6 separate regions of the Homo sapiens genome follow, and regions 2, 3, 4, 5 and 6 are each reported to be linked to region 1. Evidence: microRNA targets listed by miRTarBase, many of them from high-throughput screens and not tested one by one. Region 1 holds a microRNA gene; each other region holds the end of a gene's coding sequence.

Region 1 (4,090 bases):
GGGGTAATCATACTTCTGACTTCCCAGCATGCTGCGCACAATTATTACTGTCTGCCTCATACCGCCAGTTGGCCAGGGTCAGCCCACGCTGCTGGCAAGGCCAGGTCTCTCTCTGCAGCCAAGGCAAGGATATCCGGGGTGGCCACCCTGGGGCAGGGACTGAGGTCTCTCAGCCTGGGGCTCAGGGCTTGTTCCCACCTCTTTTATTTTTATTTTTTTATTTTTTGAGAGAGTCTCGCACTGTCACCTAGGCTGGAGTGCAGTGGTGTGATCTTGGCTCACTGCAACCTCCACCTCCTGGGTTCAAGCAATTCTCCTGCCTCAGCCTCCCGAGTAGCTGGGATTACAGGTGCATGCCACCATGCCCAGCTAATTTTTGTATTTTTAGTAGAGACAGGTTTCACTATGTTGGCCAGGCCGGTCTCGAACTCCTGACCTCAGGTGATCCACCCGCCTCGGCCTCCCAAAGTACTGGGATTACAGGCGTGAACCACCACATCTGATCTTGTTCCCACCTCATTTCTGAGTGCCTCACGGGAGTGGCCACTGACTAGCTCAGCACTGACCCCACCTCGGTGCTCTCGCGTCAGGACGGAGGCAGGTGGAGGTTGAGGGGCTGAGAGAACTGATGGGACTCATCAGGCTGGGCCTTAACCCCTCTGGCTCTATTTACTCTTCTGTGAAATGGGGACAGTGACACCTGGCTGCATGGAGGGAGGGCTGAGAAAAAGTGGGGAAGCAGGGCAGGTATGTTTGTTTGATTGATGGATGGACTGATTGATTGATTGAGACAGGGTCTCGCTCTGTCACCCAGGCTGGAGTGCAGTGGCACAATCATAACTCCCTGTAGCCTCAACCTCCCGGGCTCAAGCCATCCTTTCACTTCAGCCTCCCAAGCAGCTGGGACTACAGATGCATCAGATGCATGCCACCACACCCAGCTACTTTTTGATTTTTTTTTTTTTTTTGTAGCGACAGGGTCAAACTATGTTGCCCAGTCTGGTCTCAAACTCTTGGGCTCAAGTGATCTTCCCACCTTGGCTTCCCAAAGTGCTGGGAGTATAGGTGTGAGCCGCCACCATGCCCGGCCTGAGCATGTTCTGTGAGGGGCTCACATCACCCCATCAAAGTGGGGACTCATGGGGAGAGGGGGTAGTTAGGAGCTTTGATAGAGGCGGCTCAGAGGGGCCTCCTCTCTTTAAGATATCGTACCACCTCCCCAGCAGCTAAAATAAATCCTCGTTCCCACTCCCCACCGAGTGCCTGGGGCTGTCACCAGGTGGTACCCCCTCCCCCACCAAGCTCCCTACAGACACAGAAAATCCAGGAGCCGTTTTCACGCTTTTAGACCGTGACAGGCCTAGGAGTTGAGTCAGAGGAGCCCTCCCTAGGGAAACTGAGGCAGAGCACTGCCAGGAGGAGCCCAGTTCCTCCTCCTGGGCAGGCTGCCAGGTTGGGAAGTGGCCCCAGGAGCTCCTGCCATTCAGTGTCCTGCCCTCTCTGCCCTGGTGCTCAGAGGATCAGGGTAGATGACAAAGGGTGGATGGAGAATTATCCAGCTCCTTTTCCGTGGCCAGAGACGAGCGTCACTGCCAGCCCCACCGAACCCCTGTCCTGCCCTCAGAGACCCCTGGCACCTGTCTGGTGCCTCTCTTGACCTCAGCTTGCCCATCTGTGTAATGAGGGCAGATCTTCTCCAGGCATCCGGCCAGCTCTGACCTGCTACCTTCCCAGAAGGCTGAAGGCTGGACCAGGAAGCTTCTCTAACAGAAGGGCTGGGAGGAGAGATGCCCGCATCCTCCTCTGGACCCTCCGTCTATGAGGGTAGGGCTGGGGAAAGGGAGATCAGGGCCAGGGTAGATGGGGGCACGCAGGTCAAGTCTACCCTGGAGGTGGCATTGAGATTGGCCCCAAAGCCAGTCGGGGGGCTGAGGGCCTGACCTCTGAGGCATGGTCAAACCAGCCACAGCTCCAAGCAAAACCTAGAGGGGATGGGCGAAGTGGGCCTTTCCTCCCCACGTCCTTCTACTTCTTCGTTCTTGGGAATTTTCACCCCCAGCTCTGCTCTTTATCCTGCTGCCCTCCCCTGGGATCAGACCCCACTCCCCCACACCTACAACTGGTTCCTGGCCCTACAATCCACCCTCTGCCCCCAACTTCCCCCAGGCACATCCCTTTGCCCGGGATGCTGATTCCATGAAGGTGACATTCCCTTCTTCCTCGATGCCACCTCCTTCCAGAAGCCTCCCTGCCCCCCCAAATCAGTATCTCGCACCTTGTTCTTCCACACGCCATTCACATTCCTATTGGAGCCATGGCTGAAAACTCTCAGGCCCTAAGGGACCTGAAAAGTCCCCCTGGCTTCAGCTGCCAGCCTCAGCTTGCAAACCTCCTGTGACAGTGAGCTCACTAGCTTCCCCAGACAGCTCTGCCCATCTCGGGCAGCCCCAACTGTTAGAGTCCTTCTCTTCCCTGTGGTTTGGTTCCAGGCCATAAAGAACCTGTGGGTGCCCTCTCCCTGGGGTACCCCTGCTATAGATTTGAAGGCGGCATCCACATCCTCCCTAGATTTTTCTTTTTAAGTATTCCTTCCCTTTCAGATCCTTCCCAGGGACCCCAAATTACAGCCCCTGCCCAAGAGTTGTTCCACTGTGCCTCTGTCTCCTGTCATACAGCACACAAACTGAATCTGCTGCTGACTGTGGTCTGGGCAATGCCAAAGATCTGGCCCATCCCCTCCCTCTTTCTATATGATCTACCTCTAGTAATACAGCCAGGAATCAGATAAGTGATCATGTAGCATTTCCTGTCAAGAAAAGCCCCAAGCCCTTCCCAACCACTGTCTGTGGAGTGGATTTGGGGTTCGAGTGAAGGACCTTCTTCCTGTTTCATTTCTTCATTTGTTCTGATGCTTATTTCAGTTTGTGGGATTCTGATGGCTCCTGGCTCTGTCGCCCCTGCACCCTCATCCACATCCAAGCTAGAGCCTGGTGGCAGCATTCTAGAGATGTCCTCCAGATTCACTCAGATAAGGAATCAGTTCTCATTGGACACGGAATAAACTGATAAGGACGCGGGATGGCAGAGCCCCACTGCCACCCTCACCTCCTCTGTTTCCCAGCCCAGACACACTCTTGACCAAAATGTAACTAGGTGATGTGGCTACCCTGGCATGCTGTCTTCCTGGTGTCTTGGGCTGGCCAGGGCGGGCACTGTATACATAAAGTGGCCAAGCATGATGGCTCACGCCGGTAATCTCAGCACTTTGGGAGGCCAAGGTGGGAGGATTACTTGAGTCCAGGAGTTTGAGACCAGCCAGGGCAACATAGCAAGACCCCATCTCTATCAAAAGCTACAAAAATTAGCTGGGCGTGGTGCCATGCATCTGTAATTGCAGCTACTCAGGAGGCTGAGGTGGGAGGATTGCTTGAGCCCTGGAGGTCGAGGCTGCAGTGAGCTATGATCGTGCCATTGCACTCCAGCTTAGGTGACAGAGCAAGATCCTGTCTCAAAAAAACAAAAGTGGACACACAGATTTCTGTGGAATAATTAGGGCCCAGCTCCCTTGGGGATCTACCAATGCTTTCTGAGTGGCATTCACAGCTCTGGAGAGGGGGCTGGATTGGAGTTGGGGACTTGGAACCCTTCGCTGTGCAGGTGGCAGCTGGAACTGTGGGGCACAAACTCAAAGGCCCAAGTGTCTTACGGACGGATGTGCCCAGATATCATACGGGCACCTTGCCTGCCTCCTGGCCAAAACCAGGCTCCACCTGTTTTGCCAGAGCCCCATCCTCTGAACTGCCTAGCGCAGAACCCCAAGCCAGAAACCTAGGACATCTGCCATCTTCCTCCTCTTCTCCCATCCAACCAACATCCAATTTGTCCTGGCACTTTTTTTTTTTTTTTTGAGGCAGAGTCTCGCTCTGTTGCCCAGGCTGGAGCGCAGTGGCGCAATCTCGGCTCACCACAACCTCCGCCTCCCAGGTTCAAGCGATTCTCCTGCCTCAGCCTCCCGAGTAGCTGGGATTACAGGCACCCGCACCACACCCGGCTAGTTTTTGTATTTTTAGTAGAGACGGGGTTTCACCAT
Region 2 (4,090 bases), not on the chromosome of region 1:
TCTGCAAATGACAGAATTTGGAATATTTCTACAAGGTGCAAATTACCCTTTATAGGTTCTGATTTATATTTCATGATAAGGAAGGTGTCCTTAAAACAGGTAGTTGAACATTTTTGCTTTGTCAGCTAAATTTTTCCAGCTCTTACCAAAACTGAAAAGATCTGAGGTTGCTTCTAATAATGTTATACTTTTGGAAAACCAAGTAGCAGTCACTAAATGAAAAATTCATTCATTAAGGTGTATTTTTTTTGCTTTAATCATGGTATTTAATTACCACATAGAAGAACTATACAATCTCATGCTAAGAAAAGCAAGCATTTTCCATCCCTGTTTAAAAAAGAGTGCCAAAAATGTCCACAGAGGTGACTCCTGCATAGGGGAAAGGAGGATTAGATGAGGGACTGACAAACTATAGCCTGCCAGGGAAATCCTGCTCACTGCCTGCTTTTGTACAGCACTGGAGCTTACAATTACATTTTGAAATGTTTTCGGGAAAAAAACTGAAGATTATTTTGTGACATGTCAAAATCATGCGAAATTTGAATTTCAGTGCATATAAAGAAGGTTTTGGCCAGGCGTGGTGGCTCATGCCTATAATCCCAGCACTTTGGGAGGCGGAGGGGGCGATTCACGAGGTCAGGAGATGGAGACCATCCTAGCTAACGCGGTGAAACCCCGTCTCTACTAAAAATACAAAAAATTAGCCGGGCGTGGTGGCGGGTGCCTGTGGTCCCAGCTACTCAGGAGGCTGAGTGAGGCAGGAGAATGAGGAGAATGGCGTGAACCCGGGAGGCGGAGCTTGCAGTGAGCCGAGATCGCACCACTGCACTCCAGCCTGGACGACAGAGTGAGACTCCATCTCAAAAAAAAAAAAAAAAAAAAAAAAAAGGTCTTATGAGCATACAGACTTGCTCATTTGTTTATGTGTATCTATGTATGGCTGCTTTTGTGCTGCTACTGCAGAGGTGAATGGCTGCTAGATACCATATGGCTGGCAAAACCTAAAATATTTACTCTCAGGATCTTTTTTTCTTATTTTTTTGGAGACAGGTTTTCACTCTGTCACCCAGGCTGGAATGTAGTAGTGAAATCATAGCTCACTGCTGCCTCCAACTCCTGAGCTTGCAAGTGAACCTCATGCCTCAACCTCCCAAATCACTGATACTACCAAGTACGCCACCACGCCCAGCTAATTTTTATTTATTTTTTCTTTTTTTGTAGAGATGGGGTCTCGCTATGTTGCCCAGGCTTGACTGGAACTCCTGGTCTCCAGCGATCTTCCCGCCTTGGCCTCCCAAATTGCTGCCATCACAGGGGTGAGCCACTGAGCCCAGCCAGACTCTGGATTTTTACTGAAAAAAAAAGCTTGCCAATCTTTAGGCTGGGTGACATCTGAGATCCCTTTAAATTCCAAAGTTCTAGGAATTCCACTTCCAGAGGTAAGCAGGAATCCACCATCAAAGACAATACAGGGAACACCCATTAGCCTCATAATATAATGATTCCAAAAGAACTGTTTCTTTTGTGTTGTCAACATGTCAACCTGTAAAATAATACTCACTGACTCAGAACATTCACGTAAGTTTCCCAGATATTACTTTGAAAAATAGGCTCTTGGTTCTAGAAAGCAACATTCATAATTTTTAGAAATTTTATTCTATTAACAGGGTTGACTAGACCATCTGAAAAATTACCAAGTACAATGAAAATGAAAAAAGAAACCCAACTCCGCTAGGAATTCACATCATAAAATATTTATTAATAAGTAAAATGATTTTCCCCTGCCTTTGGTTATTAAAAAATGAGTATCATTGATGATACCAATTGCCAACACTGGTTTTACATTATTCAGTCATGAAACAGAATAGAAAGATGATCGATAGATATCTATAGACATAAATGTGTAGAAGACCATACCATACAGCGATTTGTTTAATTACAAAATACTGGTTGTGCTAGCAGTTGGAAATGTACTTGCACATCCTTAAAGTTATCTTTTTTTATATAAGTAAAGAACACACAAATAAATTCACTTGAATTTGATAATTTGGAACATTGGCAATGAATACAGTGCCTGTTGAGGCCTGAAAGAGAGAGGAAATCAAGAACAGTGTGGGAGAAGAAAGGCAATCCTTCGTTGAAAAGCTTTTCTCTTAACAATCCTTAGTGCCTGAAAAATAAGCCATTTTGATAACAAGAGTATAAAAAGCCTTATGATCTGCAAAGTAAATCGTATCTGGTTTAAATTTCATCCCAAGTCTCAGGTTATGGCTGAGGAGCTATACTAAGTATCTTTGTAACACATTTCTTTGAATTTTTATAACTAAGACAAGAAAATTTTTTTATCAGATCTAGGCAGAAATACTGATCTTCATTTACAAGTATAGTAATTACTTGCACTCAGGACTATATAGACATGGGGCTCTGAAAACCAAACAGAAGGAAACGCCAAACCATAACCACAAGGCAAAATTAAAAGTAACTCAGAGAAGCAGCGGGTGATAGTTTATGATTTCAATATAAAAAAGAATGCATTACCTCTCAGATGTCACCTTAAAGCCAGAAAATTAAGATACAATCAAGAAGGGGATGAATGGTTTTATGACTATACCACCTACTACTTCAAGATTAAAATCATCCCAGAGTTCTGAAATGTCTTCATTAGTTAAGTAACTATACAATTTATTTCAGTCTCTTTTTAATGTAGAAAATCACTTTGTAATAAGATCTCTACATAAGGTAAAAAAGCACAAAATAGGCCCCCAAAAGCACAAAAATAGACAAAATATATATATCTTTTTACAATGAAATTAAGGTGTGCCTGTGGAATACTGAGACTGATGACTGATCTCACAGAGTTCAAACAGGTTTCCTTTTAGAATAGTCCTGTTATTTGCGTCTTCCCCTTAACCTTGGATGCATTAGAAAAAAAAAAAGGCTCAGGCTGGGGGCGGTGGCTCACGCCTGTAATCCCAGCACTTTGGGAGGCTGAGACAGGCAGATTGCTTGAGGTCAGGAGAGTGAGACCAGCCCAGCCAACATGGTGAAACCCCATCTCTACAAAAAATACAAAAAATTAGCCATGGGGGCAGGCACCTGTAATCCCAGCCACGTGGGAGGCTGAGGCAGGAGTGTTGCCTGAATCCAGGAGGCTGAAGTTGCAGTGAGCCGAGATCGCACCACTGCACTCCAGCCTGGGCAACAGAGCAAGACCCTGTCTGATTAAAAAAAAAAAAAAAAAAAAAAAAAGTCCCAGGTAAAAGGGAGATAACAGGCATTTTGATCCTGTGCAGTCAACAACAAAAAAGAAATAATAATAACAACATAATAAAAATCCTTAATTTATCAGTTTATAAAATTCTTTCGTCAACCATATCTCAAGGGCACTTCGGACTCAAGCATTTGTTATACACCCATCAGCAACATCACAGTCATCTCCAGCTGAGGCCGGTTTTCCATCATAAATCAATGATACCCTGGATGAAACATATCCAGAAATGCTAATTCGGAGATGTTTTCATACAGTCTGGGGGCAAATGAAGCCATCCAAAGGAATCGTGCCATAAATACCACCGACATGTGCGGACTTCCACCTCGAGAATCCACCCCTGCCTTCGTCTCCCTTCAGTAAAGGAACCCACCAGTGACTCTCGGTTATACAGTCACCGCTGGGTACATCTTCTGTTCACTGTTGGTGTGAGGGAAGGGGGACTGAATCTGCCTGTAGCCAGGCTGCAGGCCGTCCATGAAAGGTGGCACAGCTGTCATGGGCACAGAGTCGTGCTGCACCGTGTACCCCACGTATGGGGGATGCAGATACTGCCCTTGATGTGGCACAATCTGGGTGGCCTGCTGACAGTTCAGCACAGAGAAATTCGTGGGCATGTTGACATACACGTTGTTCATGGTCCCTTCCGGCAAGCAACAGTTGGTCTGTGACCTTGTTGGGGGCGCCCGGGCCCCTGAGTTGGCGCTGGAGCTGGAACTGGCAGCTGTGCTGGACTGGCGTGAGGACGACCCCCGGGAGGTGCTGGCACTGGGGATCATGGGGATGGTCTCCATCAAGCGGTTACCCCCTGGGGCTCGGCTC
Region 3 (4,090 bases), not on the chromosome of region 1:
AGATCACAAGGTCAGGAGATCAAGACCATCCTGGCTAACATGGTGAAACCCCATCTCTACTAAAAATACAAAAAAATTAGCCAGGCATGGTGGTATGCGCCTGTAGTCCCAGCTACTCAGGAGGCTGAGGCAGGAGAATCACTTGAACCGGGGAGGCGGAGGTTGCGGTAAGCCAAGATTGCGCCATTGCACTCCAGCCTGGGCAACACAGCAAGACTCCGTCTCAAAAACACAAAAACGAACAAACAAACAAACAGAAATTAACTCATAATACATCAAAGACCTAAATGCAAGAGCTGAAACAATAAGACTCTTAGAAGAAAACATAGGGGGTAAGCCTCACGACATTAGATTTGCAATGATTTTTTGGATATGACATCTAAAGAAAACAAAAAATATCTATAAGTTGGACTACACCAAAATCTTAGACTTCTGCATATCAAAGGATACAATTAATAAAGTAAAAAGGTAACCCCTAGAATGGGAGAAAATATTTGCAAATCATATATCTGATAAGGGGTTAATATTCAGAATATATAAAGAACTTCCACAACTCAACAACAACAAAAAACTAATTTAAAAATGGTCAAAGGACTTAGACATTTTTCCACAGATGACATACAAATGGTCACAACTAAGAAGGAAAAGCCCAACGTGTGTTCTTCCAGCCTCTGCTTCTGTCATGTTTGTCAACACTCCATTGGCCAAAGAAAGTCACATGACCAAGCTCGTCTTCAAGGTTTGGAGAAATAAACTCCACCTCTTGATAGGAGGAGCTGCAAAGTCACATGGAAAAGACATATACATAGAGGGATAGAAGAAGTCATTGTGGCAACCATCTACCACTGCATCATTACTTATCAAGAATATGCAAATTAAACCTAAGAAACTGCTGCATACCCACTAATGTAGCTCAAATTAATTTGCGTGACAGTACCACATGTTGCCAAGGATGTGAAGCAATGAAACTTTCATTCATTGATGTACAAATTGAGGTGTAAATGGTTTCAACCACATTGAAAAACTGTCTGGCAAGATCTACTAAAGCTAAAGATAGGTCTCCTCCAAAATCCAGTAATTCCATTCCTACATTTATACTCAAGAGAAATGAATACCTATGTCCACAGTATGACTTAACAAGAACATTCACAGCAGCTTTATTCATAACAATAAAACCTGCAGGATTATTCACAATAGCCAAGATATGGAATCAACCTAACTGTCCATCGGTGGATGAATGGATAAAGAAAATGTGGTATATCTACACAATGGAATACTATTCAGCCTTGATGAGGAAGGAAATTCTGTCATTTGTGATAACATGGATGAACCTGGAGGACAGAACTCAAATGTTTGTAAACAGAATAGAATTTTTAAATTGTGGTATATTCAGACTATGGACTATTACACAGCAATTAAAAAGCATAAACTACTGATAATACAACATAGATAAATCTCAATGACACTATATTAAGTGAAGAAAACAGACACAAGAGGGCTGTTTATGGTTCCATTTACATGAACAGGAAAAACAAATCTATGGTGATAGACATCAGAATAGTGATAACCTTTGAGGATGAGGTGGGGCCCAAGGGAAATTTCTGGGACGATAAAATATTTTGATGGAGACCGTGGTGGGTATAGACATATACAAAATTCACCAAGGTGTACCCTAAGATTTATTAACGTTTATGTAAGTTATACCTAAGAGAACTTTAAAACCAAAAAAAAAAAAAAAAAAAAAAAAAGAACAAGTAAAAATGGAGACTAGTCCCCTGGGTCTGCCACTGTAGAGAGAGTCAGGCCTGTCACATGCCACCCAGATGACTTTGATAGCCCACCTTAACTTGCTGGGCCTCAGCTTCCTCATCTGGGAATTGGGGATAACAGTACATACCTCAAAGTGTCAGTGTGAGGACTAAATTAAAAGATGCAAAGCTTCAGGCAGTGGCTACTATCTATTAATAGTAAACTCTAAATAAGTATTTACTATCATTACAATGAATGGTTGAATGTTCAGTAATAGGGAAAAGGATGATCACTTTATAAGAATAAAAGTAACAATTTGTTGGAAATGTAAAAAATGTCAGTATCTATATTTAATTTCATTGCTTCAAAACATATATATGTATGTATATACATAAATTTAAAAACTGACAGAATGACAAAGATTTTTCAGCAATACATAATCATGGTGGGAGAGTTTAACATACCTCTCTCAATAAATGCTAGATCACAGATCAACATTTATAAATGTGTAGATGGTTTTTAAACACATTTGCTTGATCTAGCAGACATTTGTAGAATACAATACATTGATTTCAACCATCCATGAAGCATTTATAAAAACTGACATATACTAAGTGCATCAGTTAGGAATTATATTCAGGTGAAATAAACCTCCCACCAAAAACAAAAACAAACAAAAGAAAACTGTACCAGTAAGAAGTGCATATTTTTCATGTATGGGACATCCAGAAATAAATAGTCCAGGGCTGCTGCAATCACATAAATATGCCAATTCTATTAAATCTATCCTAAATATTTTTTAGATTACAGAAGCAAGATGGTTATGACTTCCGGCCACCCTCTTCTTAGCTTGCGGCTTTTACCCTTATGGTCACAGGAGGGCTCCTCTAGGTCTAGAAATCATGTCTACTTGTCCAAAAGGCAAGAAGTGGAGAGATGTGGCTACATGAAACCATCCCTGAACACAATATCTTCCCCAGAGTCACATCCAGTGACTTCTCATATTCATACTAGCCAGGACCGGAGGAAATGGCCTGCCCTTGCTTGCAAGAAGGGCTGGGAGATGGAAGCTTTTTTTTATTATTATTATTTTTGAGACAGAGTTTCACTCTGTTGCCCAGGCTGGAGTGCAGTGGCGCAATCTCGGCTCACTGCAACCTCTGCCTCCTGGGTTCAAAGAATTCTCCTGCCTCAGCCTCCCAAGTAGCTGGGATTACAGGTGCATGCCACCAAACTTGGCTAATTTTTATATTTTTAGTAGAGAGGGGATTTCACCATGTTGGCCAGGCTGATCTCGAACTCCTGACCTCAGGTGATCCCCCAGCCTCAGCCTCCCAAAGTGCTGGGATTAGAGGCATGAGCCACCGTGCCCAGCCGGGAGATGGAAGCTTTTTAATAGTGCACACTGCCAATCTGAACAGAAAACCCAGGTTCTTTTCTAAGGAGGAAGGGGTAATTTGGGTTGGCAGCTAGAAGAATAAGCCACACCAGACCTAATAGCAAATCTCAGCAAATACCTATGACTCAGTAACAAAGAGGCCACATACTCTTCTCACCATGTAATTAAATTAGAAACCAACAACAAAAAGGCAACTAAGAAATAGCCATATAACATGCAGGAACCTTCCAGAGAGATAGAAACATTCTATATCTGGAATGGGGTGGTGGTTACATGCATGTATGCATCTGTCAAACTCATCCAACTGTACACTTCAGATGTATGCATTTCACTATAAGTCATTATACCTCTATGAAAATATATCCACATATTAGTTTTGAAAAATCTAATTCCAAATAATAGATGGGTCAAAGAATAAACGATAATGGAGGTTAAGACAATACTTACAATTAAACCAAAATGAAAATATTATACATTGAAACACAGGATGCAGCTAAAGGAGTATTACGAGGGAAAGTCATAGCCCCATGTGTTTATATTTTTACAAAATGGAAGTTAATTAGCAAGGGGCCCACAGTATGGATGAGACATGGATAAAGGCAGGCTGCCATTCCTAATGGTCTCTCTTCCCACATGGGTTCTTTTGTGTACAGTGAGTGAGGAGCTGTGCCTGAAGGCTTTCTCACACTGATTACATTGATAGGGTCTCCCGGCACTGTGTGTTCTCACATGTACAATAAGATGTGAAGACTGACCAAAGGCTCGCCCGCATTCCTGGCATGCATAGGGCTTCTTGCCACTGTGAGTCCTTGCATGTTTCCTGAGGGATGAGGGCTCACTGAAGGCTCGCCCACATTCCTGGCACACATAGGGCTTCTCTCCAGTGTGAGTTCGCATGTGACTCTTCAGGGTTGAAAGACGACTCAAGACCTGACCGCAAGT
Region 4 (4,090 bases), not on the chromosome of region 1:
CCACTGGGGCAGGACTTACAGGAGTCTGAGAATTCTAGAACCCAACCTGGCCTTTGAGGTCATTATGAAGGTACATTTGTCATGGAAGGAGATAAACCATTAAATAAAACATGCTGTATTCGTTTATTTAAACATTTCAAATATTTAGACATATGGTATGTGGATCCCAAGTTGAACTCTTGTTCTAAACCCTGAAAATGTTACAGGTGAGCCAGGCTCATTATCTGGCCTATAACCCCTTTCCCTTCCTCCCTCCATGCCACTTTGTTACCTGAGCACAGTAGGGCCCCTTGCTTCTGAAAAGCGCTTGTTGCAGTAGCCCATCTTGCTATCGGACTTGGACTTTGTCCCTGACCCAGGCTACAGTGCAACCACCAATCACCTTGTCTCTTCTGCTCGTCCCCCAACCACACCCCCTCTTTATTCTCCAGGTGTCCAAACGTAAAACCTCTTCAGTGGCCCTTCTCCCCCATACCAAATATCAATGCTCACCTGAAAGCCATCAGCTTGGTCAGGCACACCTGCGTGGACGCCCCTTATTCTCAGCACCACCTTTTAAGAACATTTTACTTTGGCCGGGCGCAGTGGCTCACGCCTGTAATCCCAGCACTTTGGGAGGCCGTTAGACGAGCAGATCACAAGGTCAGGAGATTGAGACCATCCTGGCTAACACGGTGAAACCCCATCTCTACTAAAACTACAAAAAAAATTAACCGGGCTTGGTGGCGGGCGCCTGTAGTCCCAGCTACTCGGGAGGCTGAGGCAGGAGAAAGGCGTGAACCTGCGAGTTGGAGCTTGCAGTAAGCCGAGATCGCGCCACTGCACTCCAGCCTGGGCGACAGAGTGAGACTCCGTCTCAAAAAAAAAGAACGTTTTACTTCTCTGACAACCTTCAGCTCTGAGTTGTCAATATCCTATTTGATTTCCCGCCCCATGTCACAGACAGAGATGGACTACAGAATAGGCTTTATTGAATTTATTTGCTTTGCATATATCTTAAATCAAAAAAGTTAAAGAAGTAGAAAAGTTGTCAGAATATGCCTTTAGGCATTTAAAAAGAACTTAATCTCTTCATTTAAAAACAGAACTTTGTTGTTAACTGTGGAAAAGAAATTGTTATTGGAGAGTTCTCAGAGTGAGAATAGCTGAATACAGGTTCACTGTGAAAAAAAGGAAGGGAGGTGTAACAGCTGTGTTGTTAACTGTGGAAAAGAAATTGTTATTGGAGAGTTCTCAGAGTGACAATAACTGAATACAGGTTCACTGTAAAAAAGGGAAGGGAGGTGTAACAGCTAATCTACCAGGAGTACCCAGATAAAGGGCATCTACCTTAATATATTGTTCACTATGGGAATACAAAGGAAATAAAATTCACTCAATCAAAATAGCATTATCAAAATGGCAAAGGCACAGTATCAGGAAAAATAGATGTTATATAGAGAAAATGCAAAATTTAGCATGTAATTGTACTGTGTCACATTATACCAGCATCAACAAAACCCAGCACCAAGTGTTTAGCTCTGACACCTCACTACCTCTCTGGATTTTTTTGCATGGGGCAGCACCCCACTCAGAATATAAAGGCACAGTCAGATGTCCAGGCCTGCATTTCTGTTTAAGCAAAGCAGCACAGTGTAACAGAGGCAGACACAGTGATAACTACTCAGAAGTCACTTCTGGGTCTCCTAGAAAAATGAGCTAGGTTTACTGCCCAGACATCCAAAGGGAGCTCTCCCTTAGTGTTTGGTGGGTTTGGGGGATGGAATGAAGAGAAAGACAGAGAAAGGAAGATTTAACTAACTTCTAGTGAACCTAGATGAGATTCTAGGGTGGTCTGCATCTCAGAAAGCCAGCCAATTAAGGAACTGGCTCTGGGGGTAAAGGTGCCTACATCTTCATCCTCAGCCGAGGAGTTATTAATGGAGGCTGTGCTACAAAAGAAAAAGACCGTGTGGCAAGATGGGAAGGGAGGCATCAACATTTGCTGGGCCACTTGCCCCCTCCCCTCACAGCTGACCATCCCTCTCATCCTCTTTCTCACTCTCCCTTTTTGGTCTTCCCTCTTCTCCGTGGCTGGGGGATGAGTGGGTCACTGGAAGGTAGGGTCTCTCCAGCCTAGTAACTTTTGAGGTGTGTGCCTCTAGGAATGAGAGGGGAAAAGCTGATTTACTCACTTAAAGCTTCCAGGTAGCGGAAAGTTCATTTCTCTGTGGCTTTGGGATTGCACTCTTGCTTTGGGCTAAAACCTTGTGAAGCAAAGACAGCTGAGGGGAAAGGACAAGAAGCTACATGGAGTTCTCCACCTTAATGCTGGAACCAGAGAGGAAGGAGCTCCAGTGGCTCCAGATGTGCATCAAGGCAGTAAGCTTGCCATCTGCCTGATGGAAAGTACAGCTTTTGGCATCTGTAGAACTCTAATTTCAATAGGGTCTTCAGTGCTTAACAGGATATATGTGATAGGCAGTGATTTCTGTGCGATCAGAGAGGGTCACAGTAGTATTGGGACAAGAAGCAAAACATTGATGGACTAACCCTCCAGAGGAGTAAGATAATTCCCAAGAAGCATTCTGCGTCATAGGGAGGTGCTCGCTACAGCCAGGCCTGTGACAGGTCGACGTGGGGTATGTCCAAAGAGGGAGCTTTGTGTAAGTGCTCTGCATGTTACTATCACCCAAGGAGAAAGCATCAGGGGCCCCCAGGGACACAGGGAAGATGTTTCAAGGGGTGATAGGCTGATTGGAGAACTGGCTGTGCAGAAATTTTCTTGGAGACCCAGAATTTTCACTTCCACCGCCTCTTTTAGGATCCCTTGCAAAGCTTAGAGCAACAACCAAATAATTGCGGCATCTATCTAGGCTCATAAAACCTAAAGGCCAATCTTTAGGTCAAATCATCTGAATGTTTCCATTAGAATTACTTTATTTGGTTGAGGGAAATGACAATTTTCTAGTTGCTCCAACAAAATGTTTTTGCTTTCTCCCTTCTAAAGCACATTGTCCAAAGTTAAAGATTTTGCAATTTTACAGCAGTGCAAATGTTTTCGATAGTTTTAATAGAGGAAATGCTGGGTTTCTGGGTGCTGGCAGTGACTACGTGGAAGGTTAAGCATTCATGGCATTTATTTCATTCAAATAATTATGTTTTAATTTGCATTTCTAAGGCTATTTTGCTTAATAAATTCTTATTTTGCTTAATAAATTCTTAGTTTGCTTAATACTTATTTTGCTTAATACAAGTGGTCACAGTAAAAAGATCACTACATAGAATTAATACAGCTATTAGCAATTATCATTTAAAACGCTGATGCTTGGCCGGGCGCGGTGGCTCACGCCTGTAATCCCAGCTTTTGGGAGGCTGAGGCGGGCGGATCACGAGGTCAGGAGATCAAGACCATCCTGGCCAACATGGTGAAACCCCGTCTCTACTAAAAATACGAAAACAAAATTAGCCGGGCGTGATGGCGGGCGCCTGTAGTCCCAGCTAGTCGGGAGACTGAGGCGGGAGAGTGGCGTGAACCCGGGAGGCGGAGCTTGCAGTGAGCGGAGATCGCGCCACTGCACTCCAATCTGGGTAACAGAGCGAGACTCTGTCTCAAAAAAAAAAAAAAAAAAAAAAACTAAATAAAATAAATGCTGATGCTCCACACAAGAGCTCTTTATTGCGTGATTTCTGCCATGTGGCTCCATGCTTTGGCTTTCTTCCTGGCCAGTGAGAACCAGACAGGCTCAATTGGCTCAACTGGGTTCTGGAACTTGGCTGGGAGAGTTGAAGATCGTTTGGTTTCTTTTTCCATGGCAGGAACTTGCAGTATCTTCTGAGCTTCAAATCCAACTGGAACCACAGCAAATAACACACAAGCAATAAGGAACCCCAGCGATATTGGGGTATGTTGTTTATGGAATGCCATATAATGTTTCCTCCTTTCAGGTTTCCTCTGATCCCCCTGCTCTAGTGCTTTCTAAACTCTTCTCCCTTTGGTGCCAGACTTCTAAAAGTTAGGACCTGTGTGATGCCATGGGTAGTATGTCAAAGGGGTAAAATCAACTTGGCTATGGCCACAGGGCCCTGGGCATGGGAAGGCCTGGGAGGT
Region 5 (4,090 bases), not on the chromosome of region 1:
ATGAAGAATATGAACCTCACCTTTTTACAAATAAGCTAAAGTGCGAGTGCAATGATACAAAGGGTGAGTTTTACAGTGTGACTGAGAGTAAAGAGGAGGACGCCTTGTTAACCACAGCCAAGGAAGGTTTTGCATGCCCTGAAAAAGAAACTCCTTCCTTAAATCCACTGGCTCAAAGTCAGGGCCTTTCATGCACTTTAGGTTCTCCAAAACCTGAGGATGGGGAATATAAATTTGGTGCCAGGGTGAGAAAAAATTACCGGACACTAGTACTGGGAAAGCGACCTGTCCTTCAGACACCTCCAGTCAAACCAAATTTGAAATCAGCTAGAAGCCCTCGTCCTACAGGTAAAACTGAGACAAATGAAGGAACACTGGATGATTTTACAGTTATAAACAGACGCAAAAAGGTAGCCAGCAATGTAGCATCAGCAGTGAAAAGGCCATTTCATTTCATGGCAAATTTTCCTTGTCCACCATCACTCATTATTGGGAGAGATGGGGATTTGTGGCCGGCGTATTCCTTAAACACCACTAAGGATTCTCAAACTCCTCACAAGGCCCATCCTATATGGAAATGGCAGCTGGGCGGTTCTGCAATACCTCTTCCACCTAGTCACAAATTCAGGAAATTTAATTCATAAAAATGTTTTGGAAGATATTTTCTTGAACCATATTACCTTCCTTTTGTTGTAAACTGCACAGGATGGTTTGTACAAGTCCATTAATGTGTTACACCCCCTTTGGAGTCCTGGTTTATCGCATTTTGAAGACAGAAATCGGATTACTTTTTTTCCGTTGCGGGTTTTTTTTTTTTTTTCTGGAGTAGGGTGGGGGCGGGGTGGGAGAAGGGTTGGTTTACATTCCACAGACTACTTCAGGCTAAAGACTCAAGTAAAACTCAGTTATTACGGTAGAGCTGGAACACTTTACTGTTTCGATGCTAATAATGCACCCGGTACCTCAATTCAACTGCTACAAATAAATGTCAAAAGGTTGAATAATAAATATTACAATGAGCCATTAAGTTTATGCACTAGATTTCAGAGCTGAAAGTGTAACTGTTAATTCAGTGAAAGTTTGTTAGGTTACATGGTTACACAGTGAGGTGAGGTGAGGTAGCAAGAAGTTTCTGTGAGCCCAAAATGTTATTTTCTGGAGCTCTTGTTTGTGGGGTATCTTTTTCTTTTGACTCCCCTTATTCCCTCTCCAAGAGTAGTTGCACTTAACTTTTTTTTTTTTTTTTTAGTGGAAAGATTGGGGTGTGAGTCCTGATTAAATGCTAGTAAAAGCTGCCTCATACATACTGAGTAAAATAAATACGGAATTGTATTTTTTTTGTAAAGGGTGTGATTTTACTTTTAAAGCCACTCCTTTGCAACAGGAAAAGTCTGTTTTGTGTTCTCACCCAAAGGTTTTAAATAAGGTGACTCTTACTATTGTCCTGCTTATCTTGTGGTCTGAACATGACTCTTCAAACTCCCAAAACAATTGAAATATTTCTTTTTTTTTTTTTTTTTTTTTTTGGAGAGAGTCTCGCTGTGTCGCCCAGGCTGGAGTGCAGTGGCACAATCTTGGCTCACTGCAACCTCCACCTCCTGGGTTCAAACGATTCTGCTGCCTCAGCCTCCTGAGTAGCTGGGATTACGGGCGCGTGCCACCATGTCCGGCTAATTTTTGTATTTTTAGTAGAGACGGGGTTTCACCATGTTGACCAGGCTGGTCCCGAACTCCTGACCTCAGGTGATCCGCCTGTCTCGGCCTCCCAAAGTGCTGGGATTAAAGGTGTGATCCACCATGCCCGGGCTGAAATATTTCTCGTAATAGCAGAATATTTCATGGCCGAACTCTTGATAGTGACAAATCAGTAAATACAACCAAGAAAAAGAAAATGAGGGGTCAGAGTTGCAATACCCCAAATGAAAAATAACAGTTTTTTCAGGGCTTTTTGGTACCAGAACTCAGGCACTTGGATTTTATGACCTTATACTTTTTCTGCATCTCTCTAAAACTTGTGTTTTCAGACCATCCTGTGTATAGAGCAGGAGAGTTTCTACTGCAAGTGACAATCAGAGGTGACTATCTATATTTGCACTTAAAATCAAAGTAGTTCAACATGCAAATGCTAGGGTCTAGCCCTGGGTAAGGGCCATGCTGGTGTACTGTGTTGTGATGATGGAAGCAGTAAATCAAAATTATGGAAATTTGCACTGTTGAAAAGCATGCTTTAGCTTTATTTTCAATTAAAAACACTGTTTAAAATTCCTGGTTCCATACATTTCTACTTATTCCAGATTGAAGAACGGTTAACAGGATTGAATGGTTTTGTTGACATTTTCACTTGTAATGTTTTTGCCTGAAAGAAATGCATTTATTGGGTGTAGTGTTTTGTTGTAATACTATGTGACGAGGCCAGTCAGGTTCTGTGCAGAACACTGGTGGATTTCTTTCCAAGCAAGAACAAAACTTTACAAACTTGTTACACATCAAGTAGGAAAAGTTTCAGGCTTAAGAAAGTGAAGCAGAGATCAGTGATTTTTTTAATGAAAGTTGAATCTAATAATTTCTGGCCCACCTCCTTTAGTCTGACAAATTATGTATCTCAGATCCTTGCTATCTTGAATCTAAGAAGTTGCATCTATAGATCATAAATCACAAAACAAAACAAAACACCAATGAAATGTTTACTGTGTGAATTTAAGTCACTATTTCTCATGGAAATTCAGTCTATTGTTTTTGTTTTTCCTTAACCTTTTAGTTCCTATTCCCTTTGAAATTTTCCTTTTGTCTATAAATGTTTCAGTTAGATCTGGATGGCCTCAGCCCCTAATTGCTGAATATGCTCTGTGGTTTTCCTCTTATTGTAAAGGACCGAGGCTGAGAATACCTGCATCCAAATACATTTGGATGGAGTAAACAGATGCTTTCAACTACCTTCCTTCCTTTCCTTCTTGAATGTTGCCATGCCAGGTGTAGGTTCACTGGATTCTTTTTTATTGGAATGGTAGATATGGTCAAAGTGAAAATTTGGGGATGGTATCCTTGAATTCTTGTTTGTATATAATTCCAAAGACCAGTCCATGTTATAGTTAAAGCCCCAGAAAGCTAAACAATTGGCTTCATAATCTCAGTTCTTTCCTCTTTGGAAAGCAATACAGAATTTAGGTGCAGTAAGTTGTCCTGAAAAATCAATCTGTAAAAAGTGTGACACACACATTGGAAGAGTGTAATTTCTACTCTTTAATTACTTCTAAGTTAAGAAAGTTCAAAGTACGGTGACTACTACACGCAGACTAGTACTTCTCTTGTTGGCTAAGGACTCATTGTTCCTAAATTATAAAGTGAGAATAAATTTGAAGTCTACAGATCTTGGATGTGGAAGGACTGTAAGATGGAATAAGCACAATTTAAAACAAATATACCCTGTGGAATTTCTGACATAAAATATTGGCCTCCAGCTTTGACACTTAGTCTCTAACCCTCAGAGAATCAATAGTTTCAGTTTATAGGAGCTGGAGAATGAACAGCATGGAGGCCGAGGCTTTCCAGAGTGATACCATCAAAAGGAAAGAAATTAAATAGTCAACACAAATTTCACCCCACAGTACTACCATAAGCCAGCCAACCACAGCAAAACCTGAGTTAGGGCTTCTGTAAGGAAAGTGTACCAAATAGTATGCAGTAACTTGCAAATACAAGGTATTCTTTCAATTCCTGCTAGCCCCTTAGTTGTTTCCCCATTCTGATATGGGAATTATTCTCAGTACTGTTTATATTATTTTGGTTGTTTTATGATTAATGACAATATCTAGACTTTTCTAAGCTGCTATAAATGTCCCATTTGTTCAGAAAGTTAAGCCTTATTGAGAAAAAAACAAGTTACCTCCATTGATAGATTACATTTTTACATTTAGATGTTTTCAGGGCATAGAATTAAAAACAAACAAAAAAACAAGCACTATATGACTCCAGGGTGACTGATTCCTGTGTCTAAAGTCCAACATTTACAGACATGAGGAAAAAAAGCAGGAAAAGGCTCTTTTTCTAACTTTTTGGGTTAACAAACTTATTTTTGGTCTCCTATAAAAGT
Region 6 (4,090 bases), not on the chromosome of region 1:
ATGATGCACGCCGGAGGGAGACCGTATGAGTGCAAGCACTGTGGGAAAGCCTTCAGGTGTCAGAAATCCTTTCGAGTCCATATGATCATGCACGCCGGAGGGAGACCGTATGAGTGCAAGCAGTGTGGGAAAGCCTACTGCTGGGCAACATCCTTTCAACGACACGTGAGAATTCACAACGGGGAGAAACCCTATAAGTGTGGAAAATGCGGGAAAGCATTCGGTTGGCCCTCATCCTTACACAAACACGCGAGAACGCATGCTAAAAAGAAACCTGTGAGTGGGGGCAGCGTGGGAAAGTCTTCCGCGAGGCCTCGCCCCTCCACAGATGTCAAATCACAAACTAGAGAGAAAGTCTATAAATGTGAAACGTGTGGGAAAACGTATGGTTGGTCCTCATCTTTACACAAACATGAGAGAAAGCACACTGGGGAGAAACCTGTAAATGCAGCCAGTGTGGGAAAACCTTCAGGCGGGCTTTGCTCTTCCAAAAATGTAAGAACGCAGATTGGACAGAAGCCCAGTAAATGCGAAAAATGTGGGAAAGCTTTCAGTTGTCCCAAAGCCTTTCAAGGTCATGTGAGAAGTCACACAGGAAAGAAATCCTGTACATCTAAGTAATGGGGGAAAACCTGTGCAAATTAATTCACATACATGGTTCAGAAAATTCACAGCAGGAGGGCCGGGCGCAGTGGCTCACGCCTGTAATCCCAGCACTTTGGGAGGCCGAGGCAGGCGGATCACGAGGTCAGGAGATCAAGACCATCCTGGCTATGGTGAAACCCCGTCTCTACTAAAAAAAAAAAAAATACAAAAAATTAGCCGGGCGTGGTGGCGGGCACCTGTAGTCCCAGCTGCTCAGGAGGCTGAGGCAGGAGAACGGCGTGAACCCGGGAGGCGGAGCTTGCAGTGAGCCGAGATGGCACCACTGCACTCCAGCCTGGGTGACAGAGCGAGACTCCATCTCCAAAAAAAGAAAATTCATGGCAGGAGAAGAATCTCATGACGTTTATAAATATGGTATTGCCTTTATCAGGACCACATCCTAAAAGTGGGCCTCTAGCAAATGAATTTGCAGTTCTCTTGCAGGTAAAGTTGAGGGGAGAATCCTGTAAGTCCTCTCTCACCTATAGTACTGAAATTTTGATACATAATGGTTTTTTCTTATAAATTACTAATGTTTCTCTTTTCATTTAGAAGTGTATTGCACCCATGGGTGATCTGATGTATTTTAATATGCATTAACTTTAATTTTTATATATTTTTTTTGTTACTCCGTGTGAGGCCATTAGACCAATGAAATATGGGTGTTTGTTGACATTTTCTGACTGGCCCTGTGTGTTCCAAGCTGGATATTACTACCATGTTACTTTTATTCCACCTTTCCATTTTACAGGGAAAAACTATTTTTAATGTTAATACTTTCTACTTATACAGGCAAGTAATTCAGTGGCTTTATGCTATTGGTCAGAGAATCCTTCTTCATTTTGCTTGTGGACTAATAGGTAGTTGGTAGAAATACGTATGCATGCAAATTCTTGGAGGAGTGTAGTCTCGTGGGAACTATTTTTTTCATCTGTTGCTGTTTGCTCTTTGACCTGGCTTCTGGGTTGGAATTGGAAAATAGGTTTTTTTGGGTTTTTTTTCTTTTTCTTTTTTGAGACAGAGTCCTGTTATGTTGCCCAAGCTGGAGTGCAACGGCACGATCTCGGCTCACTGCAACTTCCGCCTCCCGGTTTCAAGCGATTCTCCTGCCTCAGCCTCCCAAGTAGCTGGGACTATAGGCATGCACCACCATGTCCAGCTAATTTTTGTATTTTTAGTAGAGACGGGGTTTCACCATGTTGGCCAGGGTGGTCTCAAACTCCTGAAATCTGCCCGCCTTGGCCTCCCAAAGTGCTGGGATTACAGGTGTGAGCCACTATGCCTGGCCATATTATCATTATCTTAATACCTCATTGTCTCAGTATTTCTTGTGCTTCTGTGTTCCTGCTTCCATGACAGATACAATGGTACAACCATAAAAACACAGGGGATTGCGGCTGGGCGCGGTGACTCACGCCTGTAATCCCAGCACTTTGGGAGGCTGAGGTGGGCGGATCACGAGGTCAGGAAATCGAGACCATCCTGGCTATCATGGTGAAACCCCGTCTCTACTAAAAATACAAAAAATTAGCCAGGTGTGGTGGCGGGCGCCTGTAGTCCCAGCTACTCGGGAGGCTGAGGCAGGAGGATGGCGTGAACCTGGGAGGCGAAGCTTGCAGTGAGCTGGAATCGTGCCACTGTACTCCAGCCTGGGCGAAAGAGCGAGACTCTGTCTCAAAAATAAATAAATAAAGAATAATTTTTTAAAAAAGCACAGGGGATTGTTTCCCTACTGCATCTACTGTGACCTAGTATTCTTCGTGAGATAAATCTTACCTTTCATGAGAAAATGAAAGACAATACTGGCTTATCAGGTAAACTCTGGAAATTTCCTGTCACATAGAGCTGAATACAATCTCTCAGTATGTGTTCAGTTATTATGTTTGATTATGTATTATTAAAACAAAAGTTTCTGTTTCTGAGAAATATCTATTTACTGTGTTTGTGTTTTTAAAGAAGTTGGATTCTATACAAATGGATAAAATGTTTCTTAGAAATAGCCTATTTAACTGAGTTTTTCAAATAAGTTGTATACTAACAAATGTCAATCTCTGTTTTTTATTTACTGGGAGAATGTATTAAAATATTGAAAATTGCCAAATCAACATGGTGACTTTAAAAATGATACTTCTGGGCCAGGCACAGTGGCTCACGCCTGTAATCCCAGCACTTTGGGGAGGCCAAGGCGGGCAGATCATGAGGTCAAGAGATCGAGACCATCCTGGCTAACACGGTGAAACCCCATCTCTACTAAAAATACAAAATATTAGTGGGGTGTGCTGGTAGGTGCCTGTAGTCCCAGCTACTCGGGAGGCTGAGGAAGGAGAATGGCTTGAACCTGGGAGGCGGAGCTTGCCAAGATTGCGACACTGCACTCCAGCCTGGGTGACAGAGCGAGACTCCGTCTCAAAAAAAAGAATTATACTTCTGAATTAATATTACCAGATGCATTCAGATTTAGACATTTTCTTTCTAGTACATTTGTTTCCTATACTGTTATAATTTTGTCTAAGAAATTCTTTTTTTTTTTTTTGAGACAGATTCTCGCTCTGTTACCCAGGCTGGAGTGCAGTGCCGTGATCTTGGCTCACTGCAACCCCCCCGCCAAGGTTCAAGTGATTCTCCTACCTCAGCCTCCTGAAGAGCTGGGATTACAGGCACCCGCCACCACACCCGGCTAATTTTTGTATTTTTAGTAGAGACGGGGTTTCACTATGCTGGCCAGGCTGGTCTCGATCTCCTGACCTTGTGATCTGCCCACCTCGGCCTCCCAAAGTGCTGGGGTTACAGGCGTGAGCCACCGCGCCCAGCCTAATAAATTCTTGTTTATTCATAATGACAAAAACTTACGTAACGGTTTTATAAATTTAAGTATTAAATAAGTCTAGCAAAAGACATAAAAAGATAACTAATAAAACAAGTTTAAACTTTATTGGAGCCCAGTAGCAATGGCTCACGCCTGTAATCCCAGGACCCACCGAGGCGGGTGGATCACCTGATGTGAGGAGTTCGAGACCACGCTGGCCAACATGGTGAACATGGTGAAACCTTGTCTCTACTAAAAATACAAAAAATTGGCCAGGCGTGGTGGCAGGCGCCTGTAATCCCAGCTACTTGGGAGGCTGAGGCAGGAGAATCGCTTGAACCCGGGAGGCAGAGGTTGCAGTGAGCCAAGATTGCGCCACTGCACTCCAGCCTGGGCGACAAGAGTAAGACTCCATCTCAAAAAAAAAAAAATTTTTTTTTTGGATAATATCAAGGCAGAATAAAGTATAGTATCAAACTTGACAAGGTAGATAATAGGGAATGCAGAATAAAGGATCGGGCTTCAGTAAGTGACAATCTCATCATGAATTCATTTATAGTTCCACCATGTAATATGTCTTAAATACTATTTCTTTTTTTTTAATACTATTTCAAGAACTGCTCATGAGTTAGGAAATAG

What was found. The annotated mature microRNA hsa-miR-4284 reads GGGCUCACAUCACCCCAU and lies in region 1 at 1,108-1,125, shown strand. An mRNA with a match to its seed (bases 2 to 7 or 8) in the 3' UTR can be bound and repressed. Matches are read on the target gene's strand: a 7mer-m8 pairs with bases 2 to 8, a 7mer-A1 pairs with bases 2 to 7 and ends in A, and an 8mer does both.
Region 2: the mRNA of SHISA2 is a reported target of hsa-miR-4284. Seed matches in the 3' UTR shown: 8mer at 2,955-2,962.
Region 3: the mRNA of ZNF333 is a reported target of hsa-miR-4284. Seed matches in the 3' UTR shown: 7mer-m8 at 2,895-2,901.
Region 4: the mRNA of KIAA1210 is a reported target of hsa-miR-4284. Seed matches in the 3' UTR shown: 8mer at 3,322-3,329.
Region 5: miRTarBase lists SKIDA1 as a target of hsa-miR-4284. Seed matches in the 3' UTR shown: 7mer-A1 at 1,017-1,023 and 7mer-m8 at 1,135-1,141.
Region 6: the mRNA of ZNF556 is a reported target of hsa-miR-4284. Seed matches in the 3' UTR shown: 7mer-m8 at 910-916, 8mer at 1,914-1,921, 8mer at 3,438-3,445 and 8mer at 3,811-3,818.

The regions. Positions count from the first base shown.
Region 1 is chr7:73,710,220-73,714,309 of GRCh38, forward strand. MIR4284 (microRNA 4284) reads left to right here and starts at 1,098; the gene lies at 1,098-1,178. The region is part of intron 1 of STX1A (syntaxin 1A); the gene reads right to left.
Region 2 is chr13:26,042,859-26,046,948 of GRCh38, forward strand. SHISA2 (shisa family member 2) reads right to left here. Exons shown (of 2, transcript NM_001007538.2): 2 at 1,739-4,090. The coding sequence ends at 3,655. Among named protein-coding and RNA genes, the nearest start is that of SHISA2, 7.1 kb to the right of the region's middle.
Region 3 is chr19:14,718,939-14,723,028 of GRCh38, reverse strand. It overlaps ZNF333 (zinc finger protein 333), which reads right to left. Exons shown (of 12, transcript NM_032433.4): 12 at 1,130-4,090. The coding sequence ends at 3,704. Among named protein-coding and RNA genes, the nearest start is that of ZNF333, 31 kb to the right of the region's middle.
Region 4 is chrX:119,077,674-119,081,763 of GRCh38, forward strand. KIAA1210 reads right to left here. Exons shown (of 12, transcript NM_001394962.1): 12 at 962-3,831. The coding sequence ends at 3,656. Among named protein-coding and RNA genes, the nearest start is that of CT47C1, 6.7 kb to the left of the region's middle.
Region 5 is chr10:21,511,650-21,515,739 of GRCh38, reverse strand. SKIDA1 (SKI/DACH domain containing 1) reads left to right here. Exons shown (of 4, transcript NM_207371.4): 4 at 1-2,265. The coding sequence ends at 644. Among named protein-coding and RNA genes, the nearest start is that of SKIDA1, 12 kb to the left of the region's middle.
Region 6 is chr19:2,877,709-2,881,798 of GRCh38, forward strand. It overlaps ZNF556 (zinc finger protein 556), which reads left to right. Exons shown (of 4, transcript NM_024967.3): 4 at 1-4,090. The coding sequence ends at 621. Among named protein-coding and RNA genes, the nearest start is that of ZNF556, 12 kb to the left of the region's middle.